Linked DNA regions of Homo sapiens: region 2 is linked to region 1. The links come from fine-mapping of genetic effects on gene expression. Tissue or cell type: whole blood. Region 1 holds a variant in brackets; the other region holds the start of a gene. All regions are shown on one strand. Distances are from middle to middle.

What was found. PIP is the estimated chance that this variant, and not a neighbour inherited with it, causes the effect.
Region 2: ST6GAL1 starts here. The variant in region 1 is fine-mapped to the expression of ST6GAL1 in whole blood (TOPMed, PIP above 0.99).

Annotation. Positions count from the first base shown.
Region 1 is chr3:187,061,348-187,069,452 of GRCh38, reverse strand. The region is part of intron 5 of ST6GAL1 (ST6 beta-galactoside alpha-2,6-sialyltransferase 1); the gene reads right to left. Among named protein-coding and RNA genes, the nearest start is that of RPL39L, 74 kb to the left of the region's middle. RefSeq lists a silencer at 2,643-2,692 and an enhancer at 3,640-3,819. The variant T/AT (reference allele first, on the strand shown) is at 4,957.
Region 2 is chr3:186,926,928-186,935,032 of GRCh38, reverse strand. ST6GAL1 (ST6 beta-galactoside alpha-2,6-sialyltransferase 1) reads right to left here and starts at 4,507. Exons shown (of 8, transcript NM_173216.2): 1 at 4,199-4,507. RefSeq lists enhancers at 2,061-2,120, 2,141-2,190, 4,284-4,892 and silencers at 4,087-4,276, 4,517-4,596.

The sequences.
Region 1 (8,105 bases):
GAGAAAAAGGAACAACTGGTATATGCCTGTGGGAGTAAGGTGGGGTGGAAATTTGAAGTTCAAGGATGAGGGCTGGGCTCACTTGAGGTCAGGAGTTCAAGACCAGCCTGGCCAACATGGCGAAACCCTGTCTCTACCAAAAATACAAAAATTAGCCAGGCGTGGTGGCAAGCACCTGTAATCCCAGCTACTTGGAAGGCTGAGGCAGGCGAATAGCTTGAACTCAGGAGGCAGAGGTTGCAGTGAGCCAAGATCGTGCCACTGCACTCTAGCCTGGCGACAGAGCGAGACTCCGTCTTGAGAAAAAAAAAAAAAAAGAAGAAGTTCAAGGATGAGACTACTGGCCAGGAGTTCCCTGGCTGACAGGCCATAAGAACTAAGAACAGAACCCACATCTTGTAACTTTTAAGTACTGTCCTCCTTCCACTGGGAACGTTGTAACTTAACAACAGCCCTTCAGGTCTATAGTCCAAGGGCAGAGCAGGCTTCCTGCTAGATGGGGATTTGTAAGATAGACGTGACTGAGCTGGTGACAGGGAGGCCTGAGGACAGAGGGCCAGTACTCCCTATCCTCATCCACCCTATTCCCCTGAAAACAGCTGTTATATTAAAAGCAAAGTGTCTTTTCTTTAGCTATGCTTCTTTCTATGCAGAGTACTGATGCCAGGTGATATATACATACTCATGAGGAATAGCAATAACTGGGATTTTTAAAAAATGTCTCCCCCTGCTATAGCCCCTTTCCAGCAATTTTGAGTATGCAAAGCAGGAGGCCAGCAACTCCTGGCTCCCTGAGACTTTCCCAGCTGTGGCTTCACCGTCCTCAGAAATTCCAAGAGATGCACGAAGCTTTCTTCTTTACAATATGTGAAAACAACAGACACCATTTAATGATGCTTACTACATGCTAGGTACTGTCATACCTCAACTCAGTTTATCTTCACAACAGCCCTAGGAAGTAAGTGTTAATATGTTCATTTTATGATTAAAGAAATAGAGATGCTAAATGCTAAGTAACTTGTCCAAATTACACAGTCAGTAAGTAAGAGAGTCTGAATTGGATTCTTAGGTCTAGCTCCAGAGACCACACTTCTTTTTTTTTTTTTTTTTTGAGATGGAGTCTCGCTCTGTTGCCCAGGCTGGAGTGCAGTGGCACGATCTTGGCTCACTGCAACCTCCGCCACCCAGGTTCAAGTGATTCTCCTGCCTCAGCCTCCCAAGTAGCTGGTACGACAGACATGTGCCACCACACCCAGCTAATTTTTTGTATTTTTAGTAGAGATGGGGTTTCACTGTGTTAGCCAGGATGGTCTTGATCTCCTGACCTCGTGATCCACCTGCCTCGGCCTCCCAAAGTGTTGGGATTACAGGCATGAGCCACCACACCCGGCCCAGAGACCACACTTCTAACCTATGTGCTATAATGCCTCACATAATGTGGGCAGGGTAGGGTACCACAGCTCTTGGGGAAGGACGTCAGAGAACACTGGATAGGAGTATGGAGTGTCAGGAGAATTTGCTTCTTGCCTGAGTTGTAGTATGTCACAGCTGGATGATACTCAAGGTATTAAATTCAGACCCATCATTTTCCAGATGGGTAAACTGAGGCCCAGAGAGACAAGAGAATTGTCTAAGGCTACGATGAGTTTGTGGCACAGTTAGAACCAGAGCCCAGAGGCAGGCTCCTAACAGATATTCTTTCTGCTCCAGCAGGACTACACCCATAAAACCATCAGACATTCAAATAAGCAAGCACACCATGAGGGTCAGGTCACCCTCAGTCTTCCTGTATCCAATGGAAAAACAGCCATTCACTTGAGCTACTTGAGATGAATGAGACAGTAATCCATGAAAATAGAAACAGGTGAAGATGAATGATAGTTTTATCCAGAGAAGAGAAACAGAAAGTGGCTGGGGCTGGGATCTGGTTGAGGGATAAGGGAGAAGCCAGCAAGCACTCCCCTCCTGGAACTTTACACATGGCTCTGAACTCACCCACATTAACACCATCTATATGAAGTTCAAAGATTTTCTACCAAAAAAAAAAAAAAAAAAAAAGGTTGCCTTGCCAGGTGCAGTGGCTCACACCTGTAATCCCAGCACTTTGGGAAGCTGAGGTGGGCAGATCACTTGAGGTCAGGAGTTCGAGATCACCCTGGCCAACATAGTAAAACCTCGTCTCTACTAAAAATACAAAAATTAGCCAGGCGTGGTGGCGGGCACCTGAAATCTCAGCTACTCAGAAGGCTGAGGCAGGAGAATCGCTTGAACCCCGGAGGCAGAGGTTGCAGTGAGCCAAGATCGCACCACTGCACTCCAGCCTGGGTGACAGAGACTCTGTCTCCAAAAAAAAAAAAAAAAAAAAAAAAAAGAAAGAAAGAAAGAAAAGAAGATTGCCTTAAAACTGGATGGGGAATTGGAAGCATGGGTTCCAGTCCTGCTCTGTGTCTAACTCACTCCATGGTATTAGATGGACCATGTCACATCTCCTGGCCTCAGGTGCCTTATTTAGACATAACCACCTTGTAAGGCCCTGCTGAGGGGACCAGCTGTTCCTGGAAGAATAAAGCTGTTCTCAAACGCCTGTACTTACCTGCAGGGGGAGTGTGACCTGGGTTTGGAGATCCTCTTAGGGGGCAGGGGAGGAGTTCATGCTGAGAATAAGTCATTGGCAGAGCAGCAGAGCCCTGGGGAACATCTGCCAGGAAAAGGCTACACCAGGGCATGGAGTGCTGCTGCTCAAGACACTGTTTAAAGTAACCTTCTCAGTTAGAAAGTAACAAATACTCACTGGGGACAGTTAGAAAATGCAAGAATAGAAACACACACACACACACACACACACACACACGCACGCACGCACATCTTCAGATATTACCACTGTGCATATTTTGGACTTTTTTCTTCTCAAATCTGTTTTCCCTCTGTTATAGACTGAATTGTGTGCCCCCAGAATTCCTATGTTGAAGCCCTAATCCCTAATGTGACTAATACCCTGTTTGGAAATAGGGCTGTGAGGGAGGTAATTAGGATTAAATGTGTCATGTGGTGGGGCCCTAATCCAATGGGGCCAGTGTCCTTACAACAAGAAGAGACCCGCAGAGCTCTCTCTTTCCACCACGCACAGAGGAAAAGCCATGTGAAGACACAGCCTGAAGGCATCCTTTCTCTGATTCGGAGAACTAGTGACTGAGACTGTGTCTGCTGGCCCAAATCAAGAAGCCCCAGAACTCATGATTGCCATCATGATTAAATTTTAGCTCCAATTATGATATTAATAGACTGTATGGCAGGGGTTCCATCAAAATCACCCAGCTCACCATCGCTGGTTTTAGACCCGTTGTTGATGGAAATCTCGCCCACCTCCCACCCGCCCTGCCAACCCATCCAGATACCTGTCTTTCAGTATCTTGAGAAGAAAAGTTGGAGCTTCCAGAAAGCTTTGGTGATTTAAAGTGCTGGTGGCAAACACCTAGAACCAAATCCCACCTCTGTCGCTTACTTTCTGGGCTCCTGTGAGCAACTTAAACTCTGGGAGCCTGAGTTCTGAGGTAAAATGGTGGTTGGTGGTCATACCTCACAGGGTTTGCCATGAAGATCAAATGAGAGAAGGCATGTAAGACCCTTAGATGGTATATATAATATATTTAACAAATGGCATCAACTATTATTTCAAGATAAGCCCCACTGAGTAATCTGGAAATGTCCTGGTTGCAGTCCAGTCAGTGTGGACTGTTGCTAGGCATATAGGAAGTAGGTCTTCTCTCTCCAGCTAGCACAAAAGCTTCCAAGGAAGCCACTGGGTCTTCTTGTCCCATTGTCTCCTCTCTCAGGCCCACAGGGTACAGGAGGTACTGAGTTGAGTCTCACAGAAACCTTCTTACTCTTATAGTCAAAACTGCATTTATTTAAAGACCTGTCCATTTACATATATCATTTTTCCTGTTGACTCTCATAGCCACACCTGGCACAGAAGTGTCACATGCCTGACTAGGTCTGCTGGCCTGAAACCTAACAGTATGACACCATTCTCTATAAAAAGCCACCTTCTCAATAAGAAAAGTGCCTTTTTTGTTTTGCATGCCTTCATCATGGCCAAGGGAGGGGAGCTGAACAAATGTGGGTCCAGATGGCTTTAGAAGAGAGCTGCTAAAGCCAGGCGCAGTGGCTCATGCCTGTAATCCCAGCACTTTGGGAGGCTGAGGCAGGTGGATCACCTGAGGTCAGGAGTTTGAGACTAGTCTGGCAAACATGGCAAAACCCTGTCTCTACTAAAAATACAAAAAATTAGCTGGGCATGGTGGTGCATGCCTGTAATCTCAGCTACTTGGGAGACCGAGGCAGGGGAATCACTTGAACCCAGGAGGCAGAGCAGGGAGCCGAGAGTGCACCACTGCACTCCAGCCTGAGCGCAAGAGCAAAACTCTGTCTCAAAAAAAAAAAAAAAGAAAAAGAAGAGAGCTGCTGTCAGGAGACCTCTCCGTCTGGGAAAAGAACAAGCCACTCAGAGGCAGAATTCTACCAAAGCAACAGCTATTCTCTCAGTGACTTCTGGGTGCCAGATGTTCTCCTTGTGGAGTGGGGGTGGGGACCCCGTTTACTAATCCACAGAAACAGACACAAAATAGTTAGGATAACTGACCAGGACAAAAGATAGAGAAGACAGACCACCAGCTTTTTAGGATATCAAGGTAAGAAAGGGCAATGATAGAAAGTGTCCATCACAGTTCAGTACCACCACAAGTGCTGTCATGGAGCGGCCAGGACTCGAGTACGAAAGGAACAGCCAGATACTTAGTGTTGCTTACAGGAGGTGAGAAAAGAGAGCTGACTTGCCTAAGAAGCAGCAGGAAAGGCTCTCTTGAGGGTGGGTAGTGTATCCCGGGAAGTGGGCCACCTTCCTCGCAGCCCTGGCACAATGGTGCACAGAGATCTAGAAGTGTAATGGGAAAAAAA[T/AT]CTGCTTCAGTAGAAAGCCATGCATTTTCTGAGCACACTCTTCCTCCCTGTCAGATTCTGATTCCACGGGAGCTATTTCGCAACCCTTTGTGAATTGTAGGCAACTAATACATGTGCCTACTGGGCAGGATGCTGCCCAGGAGAGTTTCAATTGATTTCTCCCCTCCCCCTGCCTTATCTCACAGAAAAACTAGTTCAACTCCTTTACTCCAAATTTGTGTTGCTTTGACTTTTCCTTTGAACCAGTTGTAATATCTGCCTGGTTCCATCATACGAGTAAAATAAAATCTTCATGATGAATTCATTTTTAATATCTGTATGAGAGTCATCATCTTACCTTTTTTTCCCTAAAAATTATCCTTTAACAGAAGTTTTGCCTCCCTTCTGCTAGATGCCTCTCAAGTGGTCTCAAGCTGACTCACCTTCCCTGTTGGGATTTGGGAAGGTGGAGTCATTCGCAAACAGGCAGAGGCAGACATTCAGGTTTCAGTAGTGCCCATCGCTACTATTTACAAAGCACTTGCTGCATACCAGCCTCTGGGTGACATGCTCCACACATAGTAACTCCTTTGATCCTAAAAAAAAACCCTGGATAGTAACTATTCATATTTCTGTGTTACAAGTAAGGGAAATGAGGCTCAGAAAGGTAAAGTAAAGCAACTTGCTGAAGTCACTCACACAGGAAGTGTTGGGGGAGGGATCTGATCAAAGCCTGCCTGACTCCAGTACTCTTAATTCCCAGGCAACCTTACTTTGGCCTTAAATACAGTTTCAAATCTTTGCAGGACTGGGGTTTCGTTCTTCACAGTGAGGAAGACTGAATCATCACGAAGAAGTGCTCAGAGAGTAGGTAGCCTCCGCAGTCCAAGAGAGTGCTCAGGGAGGGCTCCTCCCCTCTCCCCTCTCCTCTTTGCTGCTGCCTGCTCACCTCCAGATCCTACCATCCATGTATCAAACAGAGATTGGTTTCTCTCTAAATTCATTCTCTTCAACCTCAAAGTAGCCCAGCATGGCCTGGAAATCCTACTCCATTCATCAGGTTTACTGACGGTCCCACTCACCTCAATGACAATTATAAATCTCTTTGTTCAAACCTTCTCTACTAAAACCTCTTTCCCCCTCAGCCTCCTTCTGACTTGGCCTTGCATGCCACTTTGCAGAGAAAATAGAAGCCCTCTCATCCTTCTAATACTGACTGCCTCCAGCTACACCACTCGCACCTTCTTCCCTCTGACTCCCGCCTGCTGGGGTTCATCCTCCACTACGCTTTGGCTCCACCACCATCATGTTGTGGGTAACTAATCATTTTCTCCTCTTTTTAGTATATTCACTTTCTCCCTCTATCAACTGGTTTCTCCCTGTTGATTTAAAAGAAAGCTTTTAAAATATACATAACATAAAATTGACCATTTTAGCAACTTTAAGTATTCAGCTTAGTACATTCCTATTGTTGTGTAACTATCACCACCATCTCCAGAACTTTTTCAGCTTCCCAAAATGAATCACAGTATTCATTAAACAACAATTCCACATTCCTTTCTCCTCCTAGCCCTTGGCAAACATCATTCTACTTTGTTTCTACTCCAGGTGTTCCATATAAAGTGGAATCATACAGTGTTTGTACTTCTGTGACTGTCTCCCCTACTGACATTTTTTCCAATTTAAAAATTGTATTAAAATACATATAACATAACATTGACTATCTTAACCATTTTTAAGTGTACAGTTCAGTGATATTAAGTACATTTGTATTGTTGTGCAACTATCACCACAAACCATCTCCAAAACTTTTTCAGTCTTGCAAAATTGAAACTCTATACTCATTAAACAGTAACTCCCCATTCCCCCTCCCACCTCACATTCCCTGGCAACCACATTCATATAGTATTTTGTGTGTGTGTGTGTGTGTGTGTGTGTGTGTGACTGGCTTATTTCACTTGGCATAATGTCTTCAGGGTTCATCCATGTTGTAGCCAATCTCGGTATTTTCTTCCTTTTTTAGAATAATATTTTATTGTATGTATAAACCAGCTTTTGTGTATCCATTCAACATCAACAGACACTTGGGTTCCTTCTGCAGTCCAGCTATTGTGAATAAGAGTAGTCTGAATATGGGGGTATGAATATCTCTTCAAGACCCTTCTTTCAATTTCTGTACATATACGCCAATAAATAAGATTATTAGATTACACGGTAATTCCATTTTTAAGTTTTTGAGGCACTGCCGTACTGTTTTCCACAGTGGCTGACCATTTTCCATTCCCATCAACAGTGCCCACGGATTCCGATTTCTGATCATAGAAGCCACCCTAATGGGGGTGAGGTGGTGCTGTGTTGTATTCTTGGGTTGCATTTCCCTAGCAAAAAAGAGTTGAGTCTCTTTTCATGTGCTTACTAACCATTTGTATATCTTGGAGAAACGTCCATTCAAGTCCTTTGCCTATTTTTAAATTGGGTAATTTGATTTTTTTTATTGTTGTTTGAAGAGTGTTCTATATATTCTGTACATTAATCCCTTATCAGATAGATGACTTGCAAATATTTTCTCCTATTATGTGTGGTGTCTTTTTACTCTGTTGAGAGTATCTTTTGATATACAATTATTTTTAATTTTCATAAAGTCCAACTTGTATATTTTTTCCTTTGTTACGTATGTATGCCTTTGGTGTAATAATGACGAAATCATTGCCAAATCTGATGTCATAAAGTTTTTGCCCTATGTTGTCTTCTAAGAGTTTTATAGTTTTTGGTCTACATTTAGGTCATAGATCCATTTTGAGTTAATTTTTATTTTTGGTGTTAGGTAAGGGTCCAACTTTATTCTTTTGCATGTGGATAGCCAGTTTTCCCAGTATCATTTCTTAAAAAGACTGTCTTTTCCTCATTGAACGATCCTGACACACTCATCAAAAATCATTTACACATATATACAAGACTTTATTTCTGGACTTTTATTCTATTCCAATGGTTTATATGTTTGTCTTTGTACCTCACTCTCTCGATTATTGTAACATATGTATTTTTTGAAATCAAGAAGTGAGAGAACTCCAGCTTTATTCTTATTTTTCAGGATTGTTTGGTTAATCGGGGTCCCTTGAGGTTTCATATAAATTTTAGGATAGCTTTTTCTATTTCTGCAAAAAAAGAAA
Region 2 (8,105 bases), 130 kb after region 1:
CCTCTGAACCCAAAATAAAAGTTTAAAAAAAATAAAATTTTTGATCGAGACCATCCTGGCTAACAAGGTGAAACCCCGTCTTTACTAAACATACAAAAATTAGCCGGGCGTGGTGGCGGGCACCTGTAGTCCCAGCTACTCGGGAGGCTGAGGCAGGAGAATGGCGTGAACCCGGGAGGCGGAGCTTGCAGTGAGCCGAGATTGCACCACTGCACTCCAGCCTGGGTGACAGAGCGAGACGCCATCTGAAAAAATAAATAAATAAATAAATACATAAATAAATAAAATTTTTTAAAAGCTGGTAAGCACTCAAGCCTGCCAAGAGGTCTGACCAGTCATAAGAATGCATCATGTGACTTAATGCCCTCAACAACCCCAGGAGATTCATACGCCTTACTCCCCTCACTTTACACAACGCAGAGGCAGCCTGCTGGTTTTCTGTTGTTGTTGTTTTGTTTTATTTTCTGTTTTTGAGACAGGGTCTCGCTATGTCCCCAGGCTGGAGTACAGTGGTGAGATCGCGGCTCACTGCAACCTCCACCTCCCAGGCTCCAGCGATTCTCCTGTCTCAGCCTCCCAGGTAGCTGGGACCACAGGAGTACGCCACCATGCCCAGCTAATTTTGTTCTTTTATTTTTTGTAGAGATGGCGGTGGGGGAGGTAGTCTCACTATGTTGCTCAGGCTGGTCTCAAACTCCTGAGCTCAAGGAATTCGAACTCTTCCCTCCTCGGCCTCCTGAAGTGCTGTGATTACTGGAGTGAGCCACCACACCTGGCCCAGCCTGCTGGTTTTAAAGTAATACTAGAGACAGGAAGATGACCCCAAACCCCTCCTATGGCCTGAGCATCTTCCGCTCCGCTGGAACAGCCTGTGCAGAGACTGGGCAAGGAGAACCCTCACTGTACAAAGAAGGAAACTGGAGCCCAAGAGGTTAAGTAGCATGAACAGCTAAGTGGCGCCTCTCTCTTCTGTCTTCTCACTGCCTCTTGCCTTATGATTTCATACAAAGCAGCCCCTAAATGGGGAAGCACAAGACAGAGACATGGAGGAACCCAGCACAAGAGTAAAGTGAACCGTTCAGCAAACACTAAAGAAAGCTGATCCCCAGAGATAATTGCACTATTCAGCATACCTACTACTGGGATCCCTGGCTTTGCTTAATAACCAAACCTATTTAAATCCATAAGGAATTGGTTCTCTGACTTAAAGGGTGTTGTTATAACAACCATAACTTTGGCTTTTCTCTGGAGTACCAACAACTACTGGTTTGATGCAACCATTTCCCTTTTACGCAAAAAGGTGCACTAAAAGTAGACCACGCATTGTTGTGTATCATTAGGCAAGCAATTTCTCTTCTCTAGGCCTCACTTTTCCCATCTGGAAAGTAAAAGGGTCCAGTCACATGATTTCTGAAGTTCCTTACAGGGTCAGCGTCCTGGTGAGAAAACTATACTGCAGTGCCAAGAGGAATTGATGTAGGATTTTTCTTCTTGGTCCTCGGGCCAGCAATGCCCCACCTGTGCTCGCTCGGCCATGCAGGTGTGTCCCAGCTCACTGTATTATAGCTTGTACCCGCGTTCGGTGGTTCCGAGCTCGTGCACCACACCAAAGGATAATGAGGATACACTGGACATTGAAGGGAGAGGAAGGCAGATAAGAATTTTATTGAGTGTTGAAAACAGCTTTCAGCAGAGAGGGGACACCGGGTTGGTCCCCTACCTGAAGACGGAAAAGTTCCCCAATGTGGCTGGGTCAGGGGCCTTTTATGGACTCAGAATAGGGAGTGCATGCTGACCGGTTTGTGAGTATGCAAAAAAGATGAAAGCAAAGACACCACTCAAAGGTGGGCACGGCAGCGTAGAAAACCAATTAGGAAAAAGTGGGTATATGTAAAACAGGCGAAATGTAGGAATCAATTAGGGGAAAGCACGCCAAACAAGTTCTCACTCTGGTCTGAGGATTTAACTCGTAGCTTGGCTTTCAGGCTTTAAACTGTCTTTGGCCTGGAGGTGGGGGTTTCACCGGGTACCTGACCCTATCTGCCTAGGCATCCAGCTGCCTCCTGTTGCTACCAGAATCACATTGAAAGTGAAACACGCTGGAAACTCTAAGGAAAAGAAACAAGTGTAACTAGGAGATAACAGGCACAGTGCAAAACAACATGTTAACTTTGGGGAAATCCGGCTTCTCAGTGTTTTTTTGGTTTTCCTACTTCTCTGCCAAATACAAAAATAAGCAGCTACTTCCATGGGACTCTCGTTAAAAAAAAAGTAACTTTAATAAGATCAGTGAAAACAATGCTTTGTTCTCCCACAAGTGGCTCAGGAGTAGCTTGCTAAGACACACTTTCTTCCCCGTGGGGCTGATGTCAACAGCCCATGCTTTTGCCCAAACAAAGGCCTCCTGGCACAAGGATGAGAGGCAAAACATCTGAGTCTCCGTAGCTGGCCTTATTCCAATTTGAGGGGAAGGGGCAGCCAGGAGAGAAAAATAACTAAGCTTTTGAAAGGCTTGAAGGAGAGTAAGGAATTACTAAATCTATTTTTTCTCAACAGAATAAAGAATTCTTGAAAGGGATAATGGAAGGGTGCAGCTTTCTATTTGAATTACTCTTTGTTTCACCCTATTCTGCCTAAGGCCACTGCCTTTTAGGCCAATCACAGAATCCCGGTTTTGCCTTTAGTTGCCCGCTGAGCGATGCAGTGGGAGTTGGGAGACCCACACTCAAGTGTTCTCTCTGTGGCCCGTTTCACCCGGTTTAAACTTGGACAAGTGGCTGAACTCTCCGGCCTCAGCTTCCTGCCTGTAAAATGAGAAGGCTCCCTAGATGCTCTCTAGACCTTTTCAATAACAGCGGAATAGGATTGGAGGCTCTCCAGTTCCCCCCCCGGGGACAGGTTAATCTTCAGCCACACTAGCCAAGGTGAGGCAGCAGCCCGCCCGCTCAGCAGGCACACACTGGGGCGGCGGCGCCTCCATTCCTGCTCACACTGCACGCCCACAACCTGCACCAACACCATCGCCTCAGAGACCAATTCACCGCGAAACCATCTCCCCGCTGCAGATCGTGTCCGATTAACATCTGCAAAGCTGAGCTGAGCATATGTAAGCAAAGAAAAAGCAAAACAAACAAGAGTTCTCTTTTTCCGGACCTCGGAATTTCTTTCAAATAAACTCAGAACTGAAAATTGTACGTCCCCAGCTAGAATACGAGGTCTCGGCTGGCCTTGCTTGCGAAAATGCATTAACAAGCCAAAAGGGGCTAGTGACATCTGGGGTGTCTGGGCACACGGACACGGGCCTCAGAGGCAAAGAGCAAGACCGCACTGGGCGACTCGTACATTCTTCCCGCAGGCTGAGGAGGCGACCAAAATATCCCCACAGAGGCAATCGCCGGAGTGCGGGGACAATAGTGCACCCAGCACTCTCTTTTTTTGAGGGGCACCCTTAGACCCTTAACCCAACCCACATCTCTAAGAGACCTCCAGGAGGTGAAGGTGAGGGGTGGTCCACTTCACCCAAAAGAATGCGCCACGGCCGGGGACCGACTCAGCCTGGAGTAACCTTTTTGTAGCTGCTTTCTTGTTTTGGTTTCCCTTTTTAAGTCTGGCAGTTTAGTCTGATGCCCAAGCGGTACCTTTTAAATGTCTCTCTCGCCCTCTTCCAGCAAGTGGCGCCTCTAGAGCCACTCCCTCCCCCGAGGCTGAGACAATGGCCCGGCACCGCAGGGCGGCCCCTAAGGGTATGCAGTGCGTCCAGCTCTCCGGGCAGGGCGCACGTGCGTTTGTTATGGTGCCTGTGCCCCCTCCGCTGCCGCGGGCCTCAATTTGTCGATCCGTAAACCCAGACTCTGCAAGGCGCAATGCCCCCACGCCACCCCACCCCATACTGACGGTGCCGTGGAGAAATCCGTGTTCCCCGGGGCTGTGCGCACGTGGGTTTGTTGTGGATCCGCAGGCTCGCGGAGCCAGAGAGAAGCCAGGGTGGCCCTTTGGCCCTGACAAAAATGCACACACCCCCAACCAAAAGGCGGCCAGCCCCGGAGCCAAGGCAGCTGAGGCGGAGCTGGAGAGAGATTCCCTGCGCCCTACGCGCGCCGCGGGCCCCGCGCCTCCGCTATCCTCCCGCGCCCCTTTGCATCACACTCCTCCCGGGATAGCCCGGGCCGCGCCGCCGCCCACCGCACCCCCTACTCACTCGCTGCACTCTCGGCCGCGGAGGCTGCGGTTGCTCAGCACGCTCGGTGGCGGCCGCCCGCTCCGCGCCCACGCCGGTCGGTATCGGCTCCCTTTGTTAACGCCGGGCAGTGCCCCAGGCGTCTTCCCCAGCCCGGCCCTGCCCAGGACTCCCCTCCCCCAGGTGACTCCAGAAAACGCGCTCGGCAAGGGCAGGATCGCCCGGGAGCTGGGGACCCCACTAGGGAGTCTCGAAAGAGGGGTCCGCTGGGGAAGAACGGGGGACAGAAGACGCACAGTGGAAGGGACTGGAGAAGGAAGGAAGAAGAGCGCGGCGGAGGGGCGGGAAGGAAGCGAGTCGCCTCCGTATGCAAATAGAGTTGCGAAGACTGGGTCGGTCTCCGCCCCCACTCCACCTCTCGCCACCGGCCACACCGCGCCCCAAACCGGCCTGGAGGTCGCTAGCGAGCGGGCTTGGGGTTAAAGACTCTTGATGAAGGCACTGGGTGATGCTAGAATCCTGCCTGCTCTCAAGGAGGGTGGATCGAGGGCCGAGTGGGAGGGGCCACGCGGCTGCGCAAGGACCCCTAAATGCCTCTTCCCCGCTTGGCCGCGAGGGGTCAATCCAGCAGTGTCCGGCTTTTGGTCCTAACATGCGGGTGCTGTACACCCGGTCTCTGCTACCGGCTGACTGCGAGACCCTGAGGAAGTCGCTTAACCTCTCCGAAGACTCGTGTTGCTCTTATCTAGAATAGGAAAGAACAAAATCTTTCACTGCGTTTGGCATTAACCTCCTAACATTGAGGCATGACTCCTACTGGGCGCTCTCAAATGGCAAATACAGAAGGAGAGGAGCGTCCTCGAACCCCTGCACCCAGAGGCTTCCACCCCAAGCTGCAGGCTGAAAGACTGAAGCCTCAGCCTGGATGGTGAAGGGAGCGAGGTTCTTTCTTTTCACCCGGACGACGGTGGGGCTGCTGGGGAAGGAAAGAGGATTAACCAAGCTGCGTACTGACCATCCCCGATAGCCCCAAGGCGATTTCCCTAAGAAAGAAAAACTGCCCAACAGGAGGGCGGAAGGGGCCTTTAAGGCCTCCAGTCCAGCCTCCCATAGCCCAAAGAGAGGATGTGACTACCAGAGGCAATAGTCATATCCCAGTTGTCTACTGAGTGCACACTAGGCACCAGGCTGTGTGCTGGGTGGGAAAGGGGAAAGGAAGGAGATACTGGAAGGTTTGGGGGTCCTCTGGGAACACAAAGTCCAGTGCACACTTAAAGTGCCTGAAGCCCAGGCCCAGAGTTCTGTCTCCAAATGAGGTGCCTACCCCACATCACCAACCTTGGAAAGGGAAGTTACATCCGCACCCTGTCCCCAGCACCCTTCTTCCAAACACTGCTTCCTCCCTGTCCTGATCCTGGCTCCCTTCTGCTGATACTGTCATTCCCTTCCCTGCTGCCCCTGAGGCATTTTTGCTCAGTACAAAGAGCTCCAATTGAAGGGAGTGCCAGCCAGAGTGAATTCAAATCTTTATGACCAACTCGCTGTGCCTTCTTGGGTGAGTTCCACATCCTGTGAGCCTCCCTTTCCTCTTCTGCAAAATGGAGATATTAAGGAAAGCGTTGTTTTCAGGATCCTGTGAAATGACCTACGTGAAACACGTAGCTTAGTGTTTGGCATATAGAAGGTGCTCCTGACAGTAAAATGTATGTATGCGTGAATGAATAGAAGCAGCCAAGTTCAGAAGACTATTTCTGGAAGGATGCTACATTGAAGATTTTAGGCCCTATTCGAAAAAGGGAAAAAAAAAAAGGAGGCTATTAAAAGATTCTGTGCAGTAGCATGACATGCATCTTTGTATTTTACAAGGATTCCTCTGGCACCACACTGGAAAATAGATGGCAGAAGCAGAGAATGCAAGAGACTAGATTGGAAGCTGACATCAATGGAGATATAATAAGAGCCTGAACTGTGTCAGTGACTGTAACAAGACAGAAGAAAAGGACATCTAAATAATAGCTACCATTTGGAGATCTGACATGGTTTGGCTCTGTGTCCCCACCCAAAAATCTCATCTTGAATTGTAATCCACATGTGTCAGGGGAGGGACCTCCTGGGAGGTGATTGGATCGTGGGGGGCGGTTTCCCCCATGATGTTTTTGTGATAGGGAGCTCTCACGGGATCTGGTTGTTTGATAAGTGTCTGGCATTTCCCCTGCATTCTCTCTCTCACCTGCCGCCATGTAAGATGTGCCCTGCTTCCCCTTCACCTTCCACCATGATTATAAGTTTCCTGAGGCCTCCCCAGCCATATGGAACTGTGAGTCAATTAAACCTCTTTTGTTTATAAATTACCCAGTCTCAGGTAATTTATAATTTTCTCAGTAGTGTGACAATGGACTAATACAGGATTCAAAGCACCTTATTTATTACATTGTCTCTCCTTTTCATCAGATAAGTAATGGTCTTAGTCCTATTTTATGGATTAGGAAACTGAAGTCATCTAGGAAGTGAAGAGAGAATTTGACACATTCTTCCACTTTCTTTGAAAGCTTTAATCATCTCCTTCATCATCACCCATATGTCAACATTACTTAAGAACTAAGAACAGCCTGGTGCGGTGGTTCACGCCTGTAATCCCAGCACTTTGGGAGGCCTAGGCGGGCGGATCATGAGGTCAGGAGACCAAGACCATCTTGGCTAGCACAGTGGAACCTTGTCTCTACTAAAAACACAAAACAAATTAACCGGGGCTGGGCGTGGTGGCTCACGCCTGTAATCCCAGCACCTTGGGAGGCCGAGGCGGGCGGATCACAGGTCAGGAGATCAAGACCATCCTGGCTAACATGGTGAAACTCCATCTCTACTAAAAATACAAAAACAAAATTAGGCGGGCACGCGATGACGGGCGCCTGTAGTCCCAGCCACTCAGGAGGCTGAGGCCGGAGAATGGTGTGAACCCAGGAGGCGGAGCTTACAGTGAGCCGAGATCACGCCACTGCACTCCACAAAAGCAGAAGGCGCTCTTTCAGAGGTTGTCCAGTCCCCACTCCGCAGTTCTCTTTTGCAGAGAACTGGAAAACCAAATTAAGGAGAAAACAAGGGAAAAGGTTATCTCAACACTGAGATAAGCACAGATGATATGACACGTGCAAAAATTTCCTGGGCGTCTGAGACAGATGAGTGGGCAAGCAAGGGTGCTCCTGGTAAAATTCCAGGATGGGGGCCATTGTGGAGCAGCCTCCACCAAGGTTCTCTCTTATCACTTAGGACCCTCTGACCTATAAGTGAGAGGCAGAGGCTGGGGCATTACTTTGGAGATGATCCTGTCCTCCCAGTCTATACATGTGAGGCTTCTCCTCCCATTTTCTCTGGGGTCCCTGCCTTGACAGGTTGGTTTTGGTTTTTTTGAGAAGTACAGATACCCACTTTCCCTCTGGACAGTATCTCAGTTCTGGGCCCTCCACCCACAGCTTCCTGCTATGGTCTGCATGTTGTATCCCCCCAAAATTCGTACAATGAATTCCTAACCCCCAAGATGATGGTATTTGGAGGTGGGGCATCTGGAGGAGGTGATTAGGTTATGAGGGCAGAGCCCTCACAAATGGAACTAGCGCCCTTATAAAAGAGACCCGGACCAGGCATGGTGGCTCACACCTGTAATCCCAGCATTTTGGGAGATTGAGACGGGCAGATCACCTGAGGTCGGGAGTTCGAGACTAGCCTGGTCAACATGGTGAAACTTCATCTCTACTAAAAATACAAAAAATTAGTTGGGCGTGGTGGCAGTCACCTGTAGTCCCAGGTACTCGGGAGGCTGAGGCAGGAGAATTGCTTGAACCCGGAAGGCAGAGGTTGCAGTGAGCCAAGATCACGCCACTGCACTCCAGCCTGGGCAAACAGAGCAAGACTCTCTCTCAAAAATAAGTAA